Regions from separate parts of the Homo sapiens genome. Here region 2 is linked to region 1. The links come from fine-mapping of genetic effects on gene expression. A gene starts in region 1. The other region holds a variant in brackets. All regions are shown on one strand. Distances are between the middles of the regions.

Region 1 (8,338 bases):
ATTCCTGGACTCCAGCTATCTGCCCACCGCGGCCTCCCAGAGTGCTGGGATTACAGGTGTGAGCTACCGCGCCAGGCCTAAGATCGACTTTCTTTTTATTTTTTTTTTTGAGATGGAGTCTTGCTCTGTGGCCCAGGCTGGAGTGCAGTGGCACGATCTCGGCTCACTGCAACCTTTGCCTCCTGGGTTCAAGCGATTCTCCTGCCTCAGCCTCCCGAGTAGCTGGGACTACAGTCGTGCGCCACCACACTCAGCTAATTTTTTTTTTTTTTTTTTTTTTTTGGTAGAGATGGGGTTTCACCATGTTGGCCAGACTGGTGAACCGCCACCGCGCCCGGCCAAGATTGACTTTCAATTTACAACAGCTTTTAACTAACTTCTAGCTATTTGACTTGGGAAGTCAAGAAGCAAATAATTTCTAAACATCCATTCAGATGCTCAAGGATGCCCCTGGAAAGTACAGTGATAGTACGTTATCAATTTCCCCTGAAATTACAACTTTTTTTTTTTTTTTTTTGAGACGGAGTCTCACTCTGTCACTGAGGCTAGAGTGCAGTGGCGTGATCTCGGCTCACTGCAACCTCCGCCTCCCGGGTTCAAGCGATTCTCCTGCCTCAGCCTCCCGACTAGTGGGATTTCAGGCGTCCACCACCACACTCGGCCCACAACTTCAAATTTTTAAAAATGCATTATATAGCAGGAAATGTAAACTAATGCATCTATCCTCTTTAAGAAATTAATCTGGGCCAGGCGCGGTGGCTCACACCTGTAATCCCAGCACTTTTGGGAGGCCAAGGCAGGCGGATCACTTGAGGTCAGGAGTTTGAGACCAGACTGGCCAACATGGTAAAACCACCCCACCCCCACCCCACCCCCAACTCCGCCTCTATTAAAAATACAAAAATTAGCTGGGCGTGGTGGTGGGCACCTGTAATCCCAGCTACCTCAGAAGGCTGAGGCAGGAGAATCGCTTGAATCCGGGATGCAAAGTTGCAGTGAGCCAAGATTGCACCACCACACTCCAGCCTCGGCAACAGAGCGAGACACCGTCTCAAAAAAAAAAAAAGAAAAAGAAAAAGAAGAAAATTAATCTGGCCAGGCGTGGTAGCTCATGCCTGTAATCCCAGCATTTTGGGAGGCTGCAGTGGGCAGATCACTTGAGGTCAGGAGTTCGAGACCAGCCTGGCCAACATGGCGAAACCCCATCTCTACTAAAAATACAAAAATTAGCCAGGCGTGGTGGCAGGCACCTGTAATCCCGGCTATTCTGGAGGCTGAGGCAGGAGAATCGCTTGAACCTGGGAGGCGGAGGTTGCAGTGAGCCAAGATGGCGACATTACACTCCAGCCGGGCAACAAGAACAAAACACTGTCTCACACACACACACACAAAGAAAAGAAATCAATCTGAAGTCTTCCTCTGTTCAGGACTTCTAACTCAGAGACAAATTTTCAGACAGGCAGAGGCAAATTTCTCTAAATTTTAGGTTTCTAGGATTGATGATTAAGTTGAATGTAATGTTTAAGCTGTAGAAAGTATGCCTCTTTCCAAAAGCCTGTAGCTGGCCACAGATTAGTTCTGGGTGAAGCTTACTAATCATTAATGGATTTATGAAATTCAAACTACTTCAGAGTAAGCCTCCTGACAAGTAGGGAAAAAAATCCAGTTTTCTCATTCAGTTCTTTCCACCAAGCTAAAATGAGGATTCAATCTCAAATTGATGTTCCAAACTATCAGATAGTTTTAAATGATTCTAGAAGTTGAAGTGGAAAAATATAAATACAACAGCTGATAGTAATTCAAGACTGGCTTATGTCAAACAATTGCATTTCTAACCTGAGTTAATTCAATAACGTGAAATTTGAAATAAGATTTTTTTATCTTAAGTTTAAAATCATAAGGTTCTATAATATTGGATGTCAGTTGGTTGCAGTTCTCACCTATTTGAAAAAAAAATTGAAACTACTTGTCGCTAAACCATGGTAACTCAAAAACATTAAAGGCAAATATCTACTAAGGCACTATATTTCATTTCATAATTTATTTCTCCATCCCCCAAAAAAGGCATCACCTAGTTATTTATAGGACACTATCACTATTGCAACATAACAGAAAAATCTTAACATCATTGATAACTGTAGCATTTTAGTGTGTAAAATCTATATTAGATTTTAGGTGTCAAATCTATACTAGATTCTAATAGTGCACTCTACATTCAACCTCTGATTTAAAGAGTTTCATTTTAACCCAGCATTGTTTAAATTAATTTTAGGATGTGTTATGTCAGTCAAGATATACTTGCTTCTACTGAGAGACTTCTATTAAATATGCATTCAAGTATATATTTTACAAGGCATGACCTTGCGAGCCCTAAAGAGTGAGACTAAACTGCAGCTACAAATAAATGGTGCAGGAAATCAAAGCAAACTATATTCAGAGTCTAAATCCAAAATATGCATTCTGGTTCTTAAATTCCAGGTTTGGAAAGAAATGCCAACAGTAATAAATAAATAAACTGCTTTGAAAGCATCTCAAATTCCTCAAAAGTGCTTAAACAAAAGACTCAGCTTTGAGTACAACCTTAAGCTATCTCAAAACAAATAAACACACTTGATAAGGCTTAGAATGAAATTACCTCAGTCACTCACTGGAATGCAACAATGCATTCGCAAAGTTATTCTGAAGTAAGCTACTCCAACTAAACCACACTGAAAAGGAGAGAACGTGGATAAACTAAACATGTTTTGTGAAATACCTGTTTTGTATTGGCCTGAGTTTTTTAAAAGTTACATCTCATTCATTATCAGTATTTAATCTGCAAGAATATCATCAAAGGATGTCAATATGGACAAGCAGAGACAAGAAACATCAGACTTTCAGGGAGCCTATCTTCACAACCCTGAGTTATTAACTGAAGTTCTCAAAGTTAGATGAGTTAAGATACAGACAACGTGCTTTGCACAAATGCTTTGCTTATAGTAACCACTCAATAGTCATTAACAAGAATTTATTAACTATCCACCAAAACACAGTTTCAAACCCTACCGACAACTAACCACAAATTGCACCACTTTTCGGGCCGACTTCTACGGACGGTGCACAGAAGCAATAAATACACTTTTAAAACTCCCCAACTTGAAGACCAAAAAGATACAATAACTTAAACTGCTTTCAAAAACTACTGGAGTGTCATGCCTACAAATTCAGAACCTGGCTTAAAAGCTAGTTAACTGACTAGAATTCTTGGTAGACCCAAAGCCAACTAAATCAGGAACACTTAAAGGTCAAAGGCGTCCAAGCCGGGAGCGATGTGCTCCACTGTTACATGATCCCCGCCTCCTACAGGAACAGGGGACTGAACCAAAGGCAGTTGCGGCCGAAGTGCAGGCGACACACAGGGTTACACATCACCTTCGGAGATTTCCTCCAGGAATCAAGACGCTTCCCCCTTGGGTCCAGCGACTCACAGGTGACCCCGGATCTCAAGAGTTCTCGTCTCCCCCACCCCCCACTTAACCCCGCGAGCGCCGCCCTCGGCCCCCAGACCTCCCCCTGCACCCCCGGCTTCCGCGCACAGGACCGGCGGGGCCGCCGCTCCAGCCTCCACCCCAGGCCCGGGGCCTGGGGAAATGCGGCCCCGCGGCCCGCGCCCCCAGCCCGGCCCCCGCGCGCGCGGCCGGGACAGGATACTGAACACCGTCCGCTCCCAGGGCTCCAGCATGTAGAGCGCCGTGACCAGCAGGTACTGGTAGTAGAACCAGGACATCTGCTTCCAGGCCCGCGCCAGCGCCATCCCCGCCATGCGCCTCCCGCGATGCAGCTCACACGTCAGTCTGTCCGGCCGGCCGCCCGCTCACGTCCTAAAGCCCCCGGCCGCCAGGCCCGCCCGCCCGCCACCCAGCGCCCATTGGCCCGCCCGGCCCCGCCGTCACCCGCGGCACGCCCAGACCCGCGCGCGCCCCGGCCGCCGGCCCCCAGCCCCGCCCGACCCGCGCTCATTGGCCAGGCCGCTACCTCGCGTCGCGTCGTCCCCTCCCGTTTCCCCGCCCGGGCATCGCCCACGCTAGCCGGAGAACGGTCCCCGCGAGAGCGCCCAGCCGCGCCCCACCCCGCCCGGGCCGGCCGGTGGTGGGCGGGGCGTCAGTGCCGGCCGGGGTCCCGGGGCCCCCGCAGCCCAGCGGGCGCTCGGTCCGTCCAGACTGGCCCAGAGCGCTTGCGGAAGAAATATTTCTGGAACACTTGTTATGCCTCAGGCATCCTTCTGAGAAGGAGGATTGCCAGGGAGAACCGGAATGCCTTCGGTTCCTTACCTTGTGCAGCTGGCGGCCTAGCTGGGAGACAAGCATTAATCAAGTCGTGATCCGTGTAAGAGGAGATAAGGGGCTGAGAGAGGGTGAGGAGGCGAACGCCACCTAATAAGGAGGTCTGGAAAGGCGTCCTTGTAGAAGGGATGCACATTCGGCCTCCTTCCTCCCTTCCCCCACCCATGCACACACACACACACACACACACACACACACACACACACACACACACCCCTAGACGGACATAACCCATGCACTCCCTAACCCAGAGACCACTTACCAAAAACATCTATCTGCCCACCTCTTAGTGGCTGTAGGTAACCACCAAGTGGGTCAAGGCCAGAAGCGCGCTGATCTAGTGGGTTCTGCAGAAGACAGGCAGCTTGAGATTGGTGTGAGGGCTGGTGATACTTCCCTAGAGATGCACTCCTGGATGCCCAGATTTTCCCACTGCCAGATGGGCCAGCAACATTGCACTGGCCACAAGGAGCTCCATGCACTGGTGTAGCATGTGAACTGCCACAATTAAATGGCCTGCTGTTTAAATGTTAAAAGTCTTCCAGGTTAAACATACTACTGCTTAAACTTTAAAAGTTTCATGGTTAATAACTATTCATTAAAAGTACCAAGTGCCGGCCAAGCGCCGTAGCTCATGCCTGTAATCCAAGCACTTTGGGAGGCTGAGGCTGGCGGATCACTTGAGTCCAGAAGGTCGAGACCAGCCTGAGCAACATGGTGAAACCCCGTCTCTACCAAAAAAAATAAGTAAATACATAACAAAAAGTTAGCCAGGGGTGGTGGCGTGCACCTGTAGTCCCAGCTACTCAGGAGGTTGAGGCGGGAGGATTGCTCGAGCACGGGAGGTCGAGGTTGCAGTGAGCCAGGATGGTGCCACTGCACTCCATCTTAGGTGGCAGAGCAAAAGAAAGGAAAGAAAGGAGACAGAGAAAGAGAGGAGAAAACAGAAGAGAAGAGAAGAAAAGAAAGAAAACAGTAAGTAATATCAAGTGCCAGACATTGGGATAGCAAGCCAGATAGACTGAGACCTGCCTTCATAAAGTACCCAGTCTGCTGGGGAAGAGAGGCAAGTTAATGGATTACAGTGAGGTGTGGTAAATGATATTTTTGTGGATCGTATCCTTTAGGATACCAAGATAGCCCAGACAAAATCAGATTGGGCTTGTGAAAGTCTTCTGAGAAATGGTGCTTGAACTGAGTGTTGAAGGACAAGCAGAAATGGAAGAATGAATGAGCTTGGGGAAGAGAGGGTGAGACAGACATTCTAAGGATGAAGTTGTGATGTTTTTAGAAGACTGGAAGAACTTCCATGTGGCTGGAGCAAAAAGAATGTATATGCAGTAGCAAGAGATGGGCCTAGACAGCAAACAGGGACCATATTCTGAAGGACCTTGTTTGAGAAGCTAAGAAATTTTTAACTTGATGTCCAAAAGTTACTGGAGCCAACAACTTAAATAAGATTTTCTTTCAGGGCTGGGTGTGGTGGCTCACACCTATAATCCCAGCACTTTGGGAGTCCAAGGCGGGTGGATCACATGAGGTCAGGAGTTCCAGACCAGCCTGGCCAACATGGTGAAACCCCGTCTCTACTAAAAATATAAAAAATTAGCCGGGCGTGATGGTGGGTGCCTGTAATCCCAACTATTTGGGAGGCTGAGGCAGGAGAATCGCTTGAACCCGGGAGGCGGAGGTCGTAGTGAGCTGAGATCACACCATTGCACTCCAGCCTGGGCAACAAGAGCAAGACTCCGTTTAAAAAAAAAAAATGCTTTCGGAACAAGACTTGGGTGTGGGTAGTAGCCTGGAGGCTACCGAGGGAAAAAACAGGTTGGGAAGACATTACAAAGGTAGAACCCACAAATACTTGAAACCTCCTTACCCCTCAGAGATGCAGGTACACGTGCCCTCCTACTTTCAAACTTAACTGTTTTGGACTTCTTTCTGTCCCTGTTCCTGTTCAGGCACAGGCAAGCTCATTCCTTTTTCCTCGAGAACTCCAACTACCCTCAGCATCTGGTGATGCTACATAAAATTCATCCAAGATTGGAAGCATCACCCGTAGCCACCCTTCCTTTACTGGGTCCACTCCCTAGCACCATGTCTGCCAGGTGGTTGTCCTCACTGTTAGTAGCTCCCAATCCACTGCGTGTCTCTCGGAGACCAGCTCTACCACCTCATCTCACTAAAGTTGGTGACTGACTAGAAATGAGGAAAAGAGGCTGAGATCCTGGATGATGACAATACAAAGAAACCGAAGGAAGACGTTTGGCTGAAAAGATATTGATTTTGTTAGGATGAAGCTATGTCTGAGGTACCTGAGGGACACTTAAATGGAGGTGTCCAGGGGACAATTGAGCACATGGTTTGGAACTCAGAAGTGAAGCCTGAATGGAACTAGAGGCATATGAATTTTCAATATGTCCCTGGTCATTGAAGCCAGAAGAGCAGATGAGGTCACCCAAGGAAAGCACATAGAATGGGAAGAGCAGGGTACAGAATAAACCCAGAGATTCTGGCATTTGGCCAATGAGAGTCCAAAGGAAGCCAATACAGGGAAGGAGCTACCTGAGATTTGACAGCAATGAGGAGAGACATACAGGAGAAGCTAATGGAGGAAGGGATAGCCAGCAGAACAAATGGCTCAGGGAGGATAAGCAAAATAAGGAAGGGAAGCGCCAATTTGTTTTGTCCACATGGGGCTAGATTGATGACTCAGCATTTCATTGTGGAATGATGATAGGACAGAAGCCGGATTATAGAAGGCTGAGGAGAGAACAGGAAGTAAAACAATGAGGACAGTTAATTCAGGCTTAGTTTTGCAGGAAGCTTGCCTGTGAAGGGAAGGAGATAGAATGGTGGCAAGGGTTTCAGTTTGGTTTCATTTTCAGATGGGAAAGGAGTAAGCAAGTTTATGGGCTTAGAGTAAAGATATGGATAAAGATGGTGGGCTGGGGGACCAGATCCAAAGCCTTAATAAACAGGAACTGGTAGCTCTTTCCCCAAGAGGAGGAGGATGGAAAGATGGGAGCCAGATGGACATAAACACAGACAAGTAAGTTAAGGAACTCCCTACCTTACAACATCAGTTTTCTTAGTGAAAAAATAAAGGCCTCTTGTTGAGAGTGAGCAAGATGTTGAAGAGTGGAGGGTATGAAAAAGAAAAAGGGAGATGGGAGAAGTTTCCTAAAGCTGCCTAAGGATTGTCAGGCAGAAAAACCATACAGTTTTTACCAACAATACACAAGTACCGAGTATATATAGAACTAGAGAAGTTGAATTAGGAGACTTCCTCCAAGGCAGGGTTTGCTGGATGGATACAATGGAGAAACAAGCAAGAAGGTTGATGGAGAGAGAATAATTGAAATAATGACTAGGAGAATTAGGTCACGGAGGGAAGTAAATGATGAAAAGATAAAATGGAGTAGTCCAGAGCTGTGTGAGGTTGGAAACTGTAGGAGTAGGTGCATGGGAAAGAGTCTATGTTGGAGGAGGAGGGCCACGGCTGTGCTTCTGAAGCTTAGGAGTACAGAAATAGGCCAGTCTTAGACAATGACCAGGCACAGGTTGTGACCATGGGATAGGCAGCTAAAGTGGAGTGGAGGGGATAGTAAAGACCACAGGAAAGATAAAGTTGTCCAGGATGATGGCAGAACTAAGTGTCGAGAGGAAAAGTCTGTAAAGCAAATGTCAAAGTCTTCAGTGAGCATAGAGGAAAACTCAGGAGACAGGTGGATGAAGGGGGCAAAGCCCAGTGGCACATGGTTTTGGTTAGGAGGCAGTACTGGAGAGCAAGAAGAAAGCCAATCCCGCCCCACCCCCAGTCCCACCCCCAGCTCTCTGGTAGGAGGACTTAGGTCATATCCTCAGGGGAAAAGAAAGAGGTAGAGTGTTCCCAAAGAGGGTGACAGTAGAGGAGTCTTTGTTTATACAGGAAAGTGAAGTCGGGGGCAAGAGAGAGAGGGTTGGCAAGAAGGGTTCTGTTGCAGGGATGTGCCTGGAAGATGGAAATACCAGGG
Region 2 (8,338 bases), 82 kb before region 1:
TTCCCAGAGCCCTGGAGCCCAGGTGAAGAATCCCAGCTTTAGCAAAAGTCTCTTCCACCTTAAACCTTAGCTGCTAGTGGACATCTCTCTTTCCTTTCAAAGCAAGCTTCTAGGACACAGATCTTTGTGCCCCTTTCTTCTCACTCTCTCCTGAATCCCCTGCCCTCACTCCACTAAAAGCAATCCTGCTAAAGTTACCATTGACAGTCCAAATGCCAAACCCAAGGAGTATTTTTCCCCTCTCATTTGACCTCCTGCTGTATATCACAGCAACCCATCCCATATCCTGAAACTCTTTTCCTCAGTGTCTTGACATCACTGTGATAAATCCCTCTTAGAGCCTGGCCAACAATGTCTTCTTTTCTAGGAAATGCCCTTAACACCCAGTTTGGCCCCCAACCACCCTGTTTTTGTACTTGCAGCCCTCCCGCTTCCTGCCAGGGCTGACCACCCAGGGCTGGGCCTCACCAAGCAAGACCAACCAGTGACTTCCCAAGTATTTTGGAATAGAGAAGAAAAATGAAGTTATTGCATTTCCCAAAATGTTCTAGCCACAAATTCCAGTTACATGCCTATATCTGCATATCTGACTACTCCCGTATCTGTGTAAGACTCTCCTTTCTTTCCTTCAGTCGGTTTGCACTGGCTTCTGTTATTTGCCACCAATGAGTCCTGACTGATATAGACATTCCCTTGCTCCCAATTCACCTTTTCTCTCTCTGGCTGCTGCTTCTCAGTCTTCTCAGTAGGCAACTCCTCTCTGTCTGCCCCTTAAACACTGGTTTATCTATCAGAATTGTAGGGGATAATGGTTAGGCAGACAGAAAATTACTCATGTCAGTGAACCAGATTGACTGAAGCCTTTGGATTTAACTGAACCAGGCCAGGCCTCACTCAGAACAACCTATTTGCTATACAGGTTTCCATGGGAACATAAAACCAAGAAAAAACAATCTGAATAAATAGCTCCAAAGTTGGCTTTCATTAAGCCATACTTTAAAGATGAAATACTCAGAACATGTATCATTTTTTACAAAAGACCAGGACCACCAAAAAAAAAATATATATATATATACTCATATATGTCTGATTTGTAAGATCCAATAATCTGGACAATTTCTGATATGATAGTCAAAAGTCTCACTATAAAAGGGATGGGCTCCTAACATTAGATTCTCTTTGATGTGACACAGTGGGAGGTACAAACATCACTTACTGGTAAACTACTGAAAATAGCAGGTTTAAATCTAACTATGATCCAGGGTATAGGCTGTCGTGTGGGACAACTGATCTGGACTCTCAAAGTTCAGGTCATGGAGAACCAAGGAAGGTTGGGGGACTTCCTAGACTGAGACCACAGAGGGATCCTTCCTCTTCCCAACCCCTGCCACAAAAATCCTATTCCTCTGTCTTCTCTATCTTGAGAAATGTCAAGCTGACCAAGCCAGAAATGTCTCTCTTTCTTGCTCCATAAGTAATCAATCACCAAATCCTATGTATCTTATAAACTTTTCTTCTCTATCTCTACCCCACTGCCCTGTTCTTGTCTTCATTGTCTCTCTTAAACTAAATATTAAACAAGCATCCTCCCACTGGTCTTTCTTGCCTCCAGTCTTGCTGCCCTCCAATCTATCTTCCACCCTTCTTTCTCTACAGAGGATGTTTCCAACACAAAAGTCTGATCACACCACTACCCTGCTCAGAATCTTTCAGTGGCTTCCTAGTGTCTTGAAGATAAAACCTAACAAACTCCTTTTCCATGGTAGGCAAGGCCTTCTGTGATCTTCATCCCTGCATTCCTTCCTAGTCTCAGTCTCCTTCTGCACCCATTCACAGCCAGTTCTCCAGACATACTCGATTGCTGTGGTGACTCTGAGTACGTGCTGTCCTCCAGAGCCACTGGGCCTGCACACATGCCATTCTCTGAGCTACATACTATCCCCTCCACCTCTGTAACAACCCCTCCCCACACACTCCTCCTAGAGAAGATATGTCTGTTGGAAAGCTTTGTCTGCATTGCCCAGATCTACTAAGAAGCTCCATTTCTCCGATTTTCTCATTGGTCCAGATATATAACCTCATGAAAGCAATTTATTTCTTTGTATTAAATTATTTGTTTATGCAACTGCCTTCCCTGCTGACTATGAGATTCTTAATGACATGGACCTTGTTTTTAATTTGGCTTTTTTTAAGTGCCTAGTCCATTCTGAGTTTATAGTAGGCACTCAACAATTGCTTATTTTAAAATTGACAGTCATCCCAGTGAAATTGTTTATTTCTTTGTTTTTAAGGACTTTAATTTCCAAATTATAAAGAGCTATGACCAGCTAAAAATAGGAACAAGAAAAGAGACTGGGAATGTGAGCGACTGCAGGAAATGAATTATTTGAAAGTCAAGCCTTTGGCCTTTTCCTTCTCAACGATGAGATAAACCCCAGCCTTCAAAGAATGTTGGGTAAAGTGGGGATGGGTGGGTTAGGGGGTTGAAATGCAAAGCAGGAAACAAGCTCATTTTGGATATCAAATTAATTGTATTGGACTAAGGAAAATTTACCCACACCCCTATGTTCTAACTCTATGATTTTAAAAATACAATATTCTATGCACACAGGAGGTGGTAACCAATGGGAAAAGGAGGAGACTGGTGCCTTCTCAATCTCTGACAAACAATCCAAAGATTGTAGAGATCCAAACAAAAGGATCTCTACATGAAGCACTATTGATACCAAAGAATCTGGCCTCGAGGAGGGATTCTCCACATTTTGCATACCACCAATCACTCTCAAAAAGCCGAGGTCCCATCCACTGCATAGCAAAAGCCCATTTCTGTTTTGTTTTGTTTCTGAGACAGAGTCTCGCTCTGTCGCCCAGGCTGGAGTGCAGTGGCGCGATCTCGGCTCTCTGCAACCTCTGCCTCCCAGGTTCAAGTGATTCTCCTTCCCCAGCCTCTGAGTAGCTGGGATTACAGGCACGTGTCACTTCACCCGGGTAATTTTTGCATTTTTCGTGGAGACGGGGGTTTCACCATGTTGGCCAGGCTGGTCTCGAACTCCCAACCTCAGGTGATCCACCCACCTCGGCCTCCCAAAGTGCTGGGATTACAGGCGTTAGCCACTGCGCCCTGCCACAAAAGCCCATTTCTTTAGAACACATTTATATGTTTAACTTCTTCTTATAATTATGTTTATGATACAGAGTAAGCTTCAAGAACAGAACAACAACA[A/C]GGCAGTGGGATTGTTGGAGCGAATTCCATTATGACTTCTTGCTAGCTGTATGAGAACACTGTGGCCAGAGCTCAGGAGGCCTCCAGGGAATACCTTGCTCTGGGAAACACAGGCTTTGATTCAGGCGGCATTGAGAAATCCTTTGAGGGAGACCTCCCATCTGCTGATGAGAAGAATGCTTCCCTCTCATTCTTGGCACCCTCACTTGGCTGGCAAGGTCAGGTGTGTTTTTCCAGTGACTAGCTCACAGCAGGGATAGAGGAGAGAAGCCCTTGGGGGCTGAGAGACAAAGGGAACCAGACTGCCCAGCGTCTGGTCAAGGTTTCCAAGGTCTTTTTCAAGGTTTCGTTTCCCAGCACTCTGTCTTCAGTTTACCAAGAAAAAGTTCGTAAAAAGAACCTCTTTAGTGGCCTTTGAAGAAGGATAGAGAGAGGGAGGCAGAGTCCAAGGGCCCTGTGAGCAGAGTGGGAAGGACATGGAGAACAAAGAGGCTCACATGATGGGGTAACTAGGGATTGAAGATATCAATCACCTTTGAGAAATAAAGTAGAAAAAGAGAGAGAGGGGAGGAAACACACAAATACCAGAATGGACTAGTGTATACCAGCTATTCAGCTAAAAAATGAAGAAAGAAAATGGACAGCCAGAGACAGCCTTTGAGAAGTTTGTTGAAAAACTATTTTAGATGAACTACCATAAAAGTACTGTTAACAAGTAGGAGAATTTTAAGGGGAACATTAGAAATTCAGCCTCCTGCATTCGTTTGTAAGGGACAAGGAACTAGTCACGCAGTGGAGATGAGAGATAAGCCAGGAATGAAATGAAAACTTTGAAAGTTCCATGCATAGGGATAGCAGGATAATGATTTAAAGCATGAAGGCAGTAATTTAGGTCTAAAATGTCACCACCATTAATTGTAAGTTTTATTGTAGTCTGTTAGGGAAGAGTTCTCTGGGGATTATGAATAACTGCTTCTTGAAATGGAAACTGCAAAAACAATTGACATTTCTACAATCCTTAAGGAATAGAACTTTGAGAAAAATGACTTCTCAGGTGGCTATCTGAACATCAGTGTCTGAATAACTAACATTCATCCTTGCTTTATGTCACCCTCATTAATCAGTTCATATTAAAGATAACGCCATACATGTAATTATAGGCATAGCATTACGTTAAGCATTTAAGACTATCATATTGCACCATATCTTGGCCGTGGTGATGTATGGCCCCAATTTGAGAACACGTGTCAATTTTCCATAGATTTTCATCTGTATTCATGACTCAAGGGCCTTTAGCAAATTAATAATCAAAAGAATTTACAGTAGGCTGCTTTGTAAGTCCACACTTCATTACTTAGCATACTTCTCACTTGTTTTAGCTCTTAAAAACTTGTTCAGCTTCCTAAAAATATGCTTAACCTATTTTCCAATTGCCTTTGTTCCCGTGCTAGATGTTTGTTTGTTTGTCTGTCTGTCTGTCTGTCTTTAGAGATTTGGTAAGGGGGCGGGGGTCTCTCTATGTTACCCATGCTGGACTTGAACTCCTGGACTCAAAGAATTCTCCTGCCTCAGCCTCCCAAGTAGGTGGGACTACAGGTGAACACCACTATGCCTGGCTTGTTAGATTTTTAAAATCTAAGCACATGTGGTTTCATTTATTTTATTTTATTTTATTATGATTTTTTTGAACTTGTATTTTAGGTTCAGGGATACATGTGCAGGTTTGTTATATAGGTCAACTGCATGTCACCAGGGTTTGGTGTACAGATAATTTCGTCACCCAGGTAATAAGCATAGTCGCTGATAGGTATTTTGTCTAGTCCTCTCCCGACTTCTACCCTCCACCCTCAAGTCAGCTGCAGTGTCTGTTGTTCCCCTCCTAGTGTCTATGCATTTTTCTTGTTATAAGCTCCCACTTATAAGTGAGAATATGTGGTGTTTGGTTTTCTGTTCCTGTGTTAGGTTGCCTAGGATAATGGCCTCCAGCTCCACCCATGTTGCTGCAAAGGACATGATCTCATCCTTTTTTATGGCTGCATAGTATTCCATGGCGTATATGCACCACATTTTCTTTATCCAGCCTACAGTTGATGGGAATTTAGGTTGATTCCATGTCTTTGCTATTGTGAATAGTGCCATAATGAACATATGTGTGCATGTGTCTTTATGGTAGAACAATTTGTATTCCTTTGGGTATATACCCAATAATGGGATTTTTGGGTTAAACAGTAAGTCTAGGTTTTGTTTTGTTTTGATTTGTTTGAGACGGAGTCTCGCACTGTCGCCCAGGCTGGAGTGCAGTGGTGCAATCTCAGCTCACTGCAAGCTCCGCCTCCCAGATTCAGGCCATTCTCCTGCCTCAGCCTCCCAAGTAGCTGGGACTACAGGCGCCCACCACCACGCCCGGCTAATTTTTTGTATTTTTAGTAGAGACGGGGTTTCACTGTGTTAGCCAGGATGGTCTCAATCTCCTGACCTCGTGATCTGCCCGCCTCAGCCTCCCTAAGTGCTGGGATTACAGGCATGAGCCACTGCGCCCGGCCTTGTTTTGTTTTTTTGGGACAGAGTCTCACTCTGTCACCCAGGCTGGAGAGCAGTGGCGTACTCTCGGCTCACTGGGACCTCCACTTCCTAGGTTCAAGCAATTCTCATGCCTCAGCCTCCCAAGTAGCTGGGATTACAGGCATGTGCCACCACACCCACCTAAGTTTTTTGTATTTTTAGTAGAGGTTTGCCCATGTTGGCCAGGCTGGTCTTGAACTCCTGACCTCAAGTGATCCACCCAGCTTAGCCTTGCAAAGTCCTGGGATCACAGGCCTGAGCTACTGCACCTGGACTGGGTAAGGCTGTTTTAAGTTCTTTGAGGAATTGCCAAACTGCTTTCCACATTGGCTGAACTAATTTACACTCTCACCAGCAGTGTATAAGCATTCCCTTTTCTTCACAACCTCACCAGCATCTGTTACTTTTTGACTTTTTAGCAATAGCCAGCTGACTGGTGTGAAATGGTCTCTTACCATGATTTTGATTTGCATTTCTCTAATGATTAGGTTAAACATTTTTTCATATGCTTGTTGGCTGCATGTATGCCTTCTTTTTAAAAGGGTCTGTTCACGTCCTTTGCCCACTTTTTAATGGGATTGTTATTTGCTTATAAATTTAAGTTCTTTTAGATTCTAGATAGTCGACCTTTGTGGGATGCATAGTTTGCAAATATTTTCTCCCATTCCGTAGGTTGTCTGTTGACTTGATTGATAGTTTCTTTTGCTGTAAGCATATGTTATTTTAAAATTACATCACATCTGTACACTGAGTCATCTAAACAATGAACGAAATGAAATGATCAATATACTAAAAAGTAATGCTGGATTAAACTAAGTTCAAGGTCTTGCAATAAAATTTAGCTTGTCCCACTTATTCTACATTTTTAACTACAACGAAACTCATCTTTTAAAAAAACTCATCTTTATAAAATTTTCAAGTGCTTAACAGAGGCTTTTATTCACTATTCCTTACAACAACCTTATGGAAAAAAGTCAGCATGCTCCTAATGATGTAACCAGAGAAACAAACAGAGAAGGCAAGATCATTGTCCAGACTTCCCAAACAAATAGGAAAATGGGGATTAAAACTGTCTGTCTAGGCCAGACCTGGTGGCTCATACCTGTAATCCCAGCATTCTGGGAGCCTGGGGTGGGTAGATCACTTGAGGCCAGGAGTTCAAGACCAGCCTGGGCATCATGGCGAAACCCTGTCTCTACAAAAAATACAAAAATTAGCAGGTATGGTGGCATGCACCTGTAATCCCAGCTACTCAGGAGGCTGAGGCAGGAGAATTGCTTGAACCTGGGAGGCAGAGATTACGGTGAGCTGAGATCACACCATGGCACTCCAGCCTGGGACTCTGTCTCAAAACAAGAAAAAACTCTCTGTTTACATATTTATGGTCCATTTTCTCCAGCATATGTTTTTGTGAAGATGCTGTTATCAGGTCCCTGGCCTCCCCTGGGCTGCTCACATCAATCACTAACCCAGCATTACATCAATAAACTCCTGCTGCTCCCACCCTCAGCCTAGATTGCTTGTGGGGGAAGTGGCATTGTCAGAAATCAGCATTTGATATGGCTCTGGAAGATAGCTGCCCGTCTCTTCAAAGGACACCCCTCTTCGGGAACCCCTAAAATAAATTTCCTTTACCTCTTAAGTCAGACAAGCCCAAATATCCTCTTCTAATTTGGTGAAAATCTATCCAGCTGTTTTCATTTGATGTAACAAAGAACAAGCAGAAACTTTGTTTTATCCAAATGGATAATAGTGTCCTGGATTCTGGGACAAACTCTGTGAGAATCAATAATACATGACCCAATACAGTAAAAGTTGCTTCTGTATGTGGTGCTATTTGGAGAGCTAGATTATTATTTCTCCACTGACGACCTGTAGAACAAGGTGTTTGTTAAAATGCAGATCCCTAGGTCCCAACCCAGACCTACTGAATCAGACTTAAAAGTAGAGATGCATTCAAACCAGTGCCACAACCAACACCACTGTGATTCTTATGCAACCTGAAGAAATCTCCAGGCTAGACCGGGACTTCTCAGACTAGATTGCATGCTTCTTGAGAGCATAAATCAGTTCCTAGTTATCCTCACAGGCCCCAATACCCAGCTGAGGTGCTTCATAAGTGTTCATTGATTGAATGCATATTCATTGGTTGTTTATTGTGTATGCATTATAAGTGTCCACAGTCTTTCATGTTAGAATTAGTTCATGTGTAATTAATTTCTTAGGAAGCAGTGTAAACACCTGTTATAAAGTGTAAACACGTATAAACTCTTTAAACTGATTTTTAGTTTTGTCCTATTCCCACTGCATGGAGGCAGAATTAAATAAACCAGAAGCATGACTACTCCCTGCACAACTCACTGTGTGCACCTGCTCCATCCCAGCCCTAGGCTCACAGATCCTCCAGGCTCTCAGATAATAAAAGCCCTTCGGTCAGTTTTAGACAAAAATTCTAGTATGGTCAAATAGCCAACCTCCAAACTCTTGATCCAATTAAAGCTTCTCTATTCCCCCAGGAGGGACCTACCAGCTGGGAAACCTGCTGTTTGGATG

Which allele goes with the higher level. Positions count from the first base shown, and alleles are read on the strand shown. Sizes are in standard deviations (SD) of each study's normalised expression.
As copies of A replace C in region 2, the expression in pancreas of the gene that starts at base 3,835 in region 1 goes up (small effect, 0.33 SD a copy in GTEx).

Evidence for each region.
Region 2: its variant is fine-mapped to the expression of SPTSSA in pancreas (GTEx, PIP 0.92).

Annotation. Positions count from the first base shown.
Region 1 is chr14:34,458,406-34,466,743 of GRCh38, forward strand. SPTSSA (serine palmitoyltransferase small subunit A) reads right to left here and starts at 3,835. Exons shown (of 2, transcript NM_138288.4): 1 at 3,691-3,835. The coding sequence starts at 3,802. RefSeq lists enhancers at 186-687, 3,048-3,157, 3,698-4,648 and silencers at 3,558-3,727, 3,848-4,357.
Region 2 is chr14:34,376,259-34,384,596 of GRCh38, forward strand. No RefSeq gene overlaps it. Among named protein-coding and RNA genes, the nearest start is that of SPTSSA, 82 kb to the right of the region's middle. The variant A/C (reference allele first, on the strand shown) is at 3,224.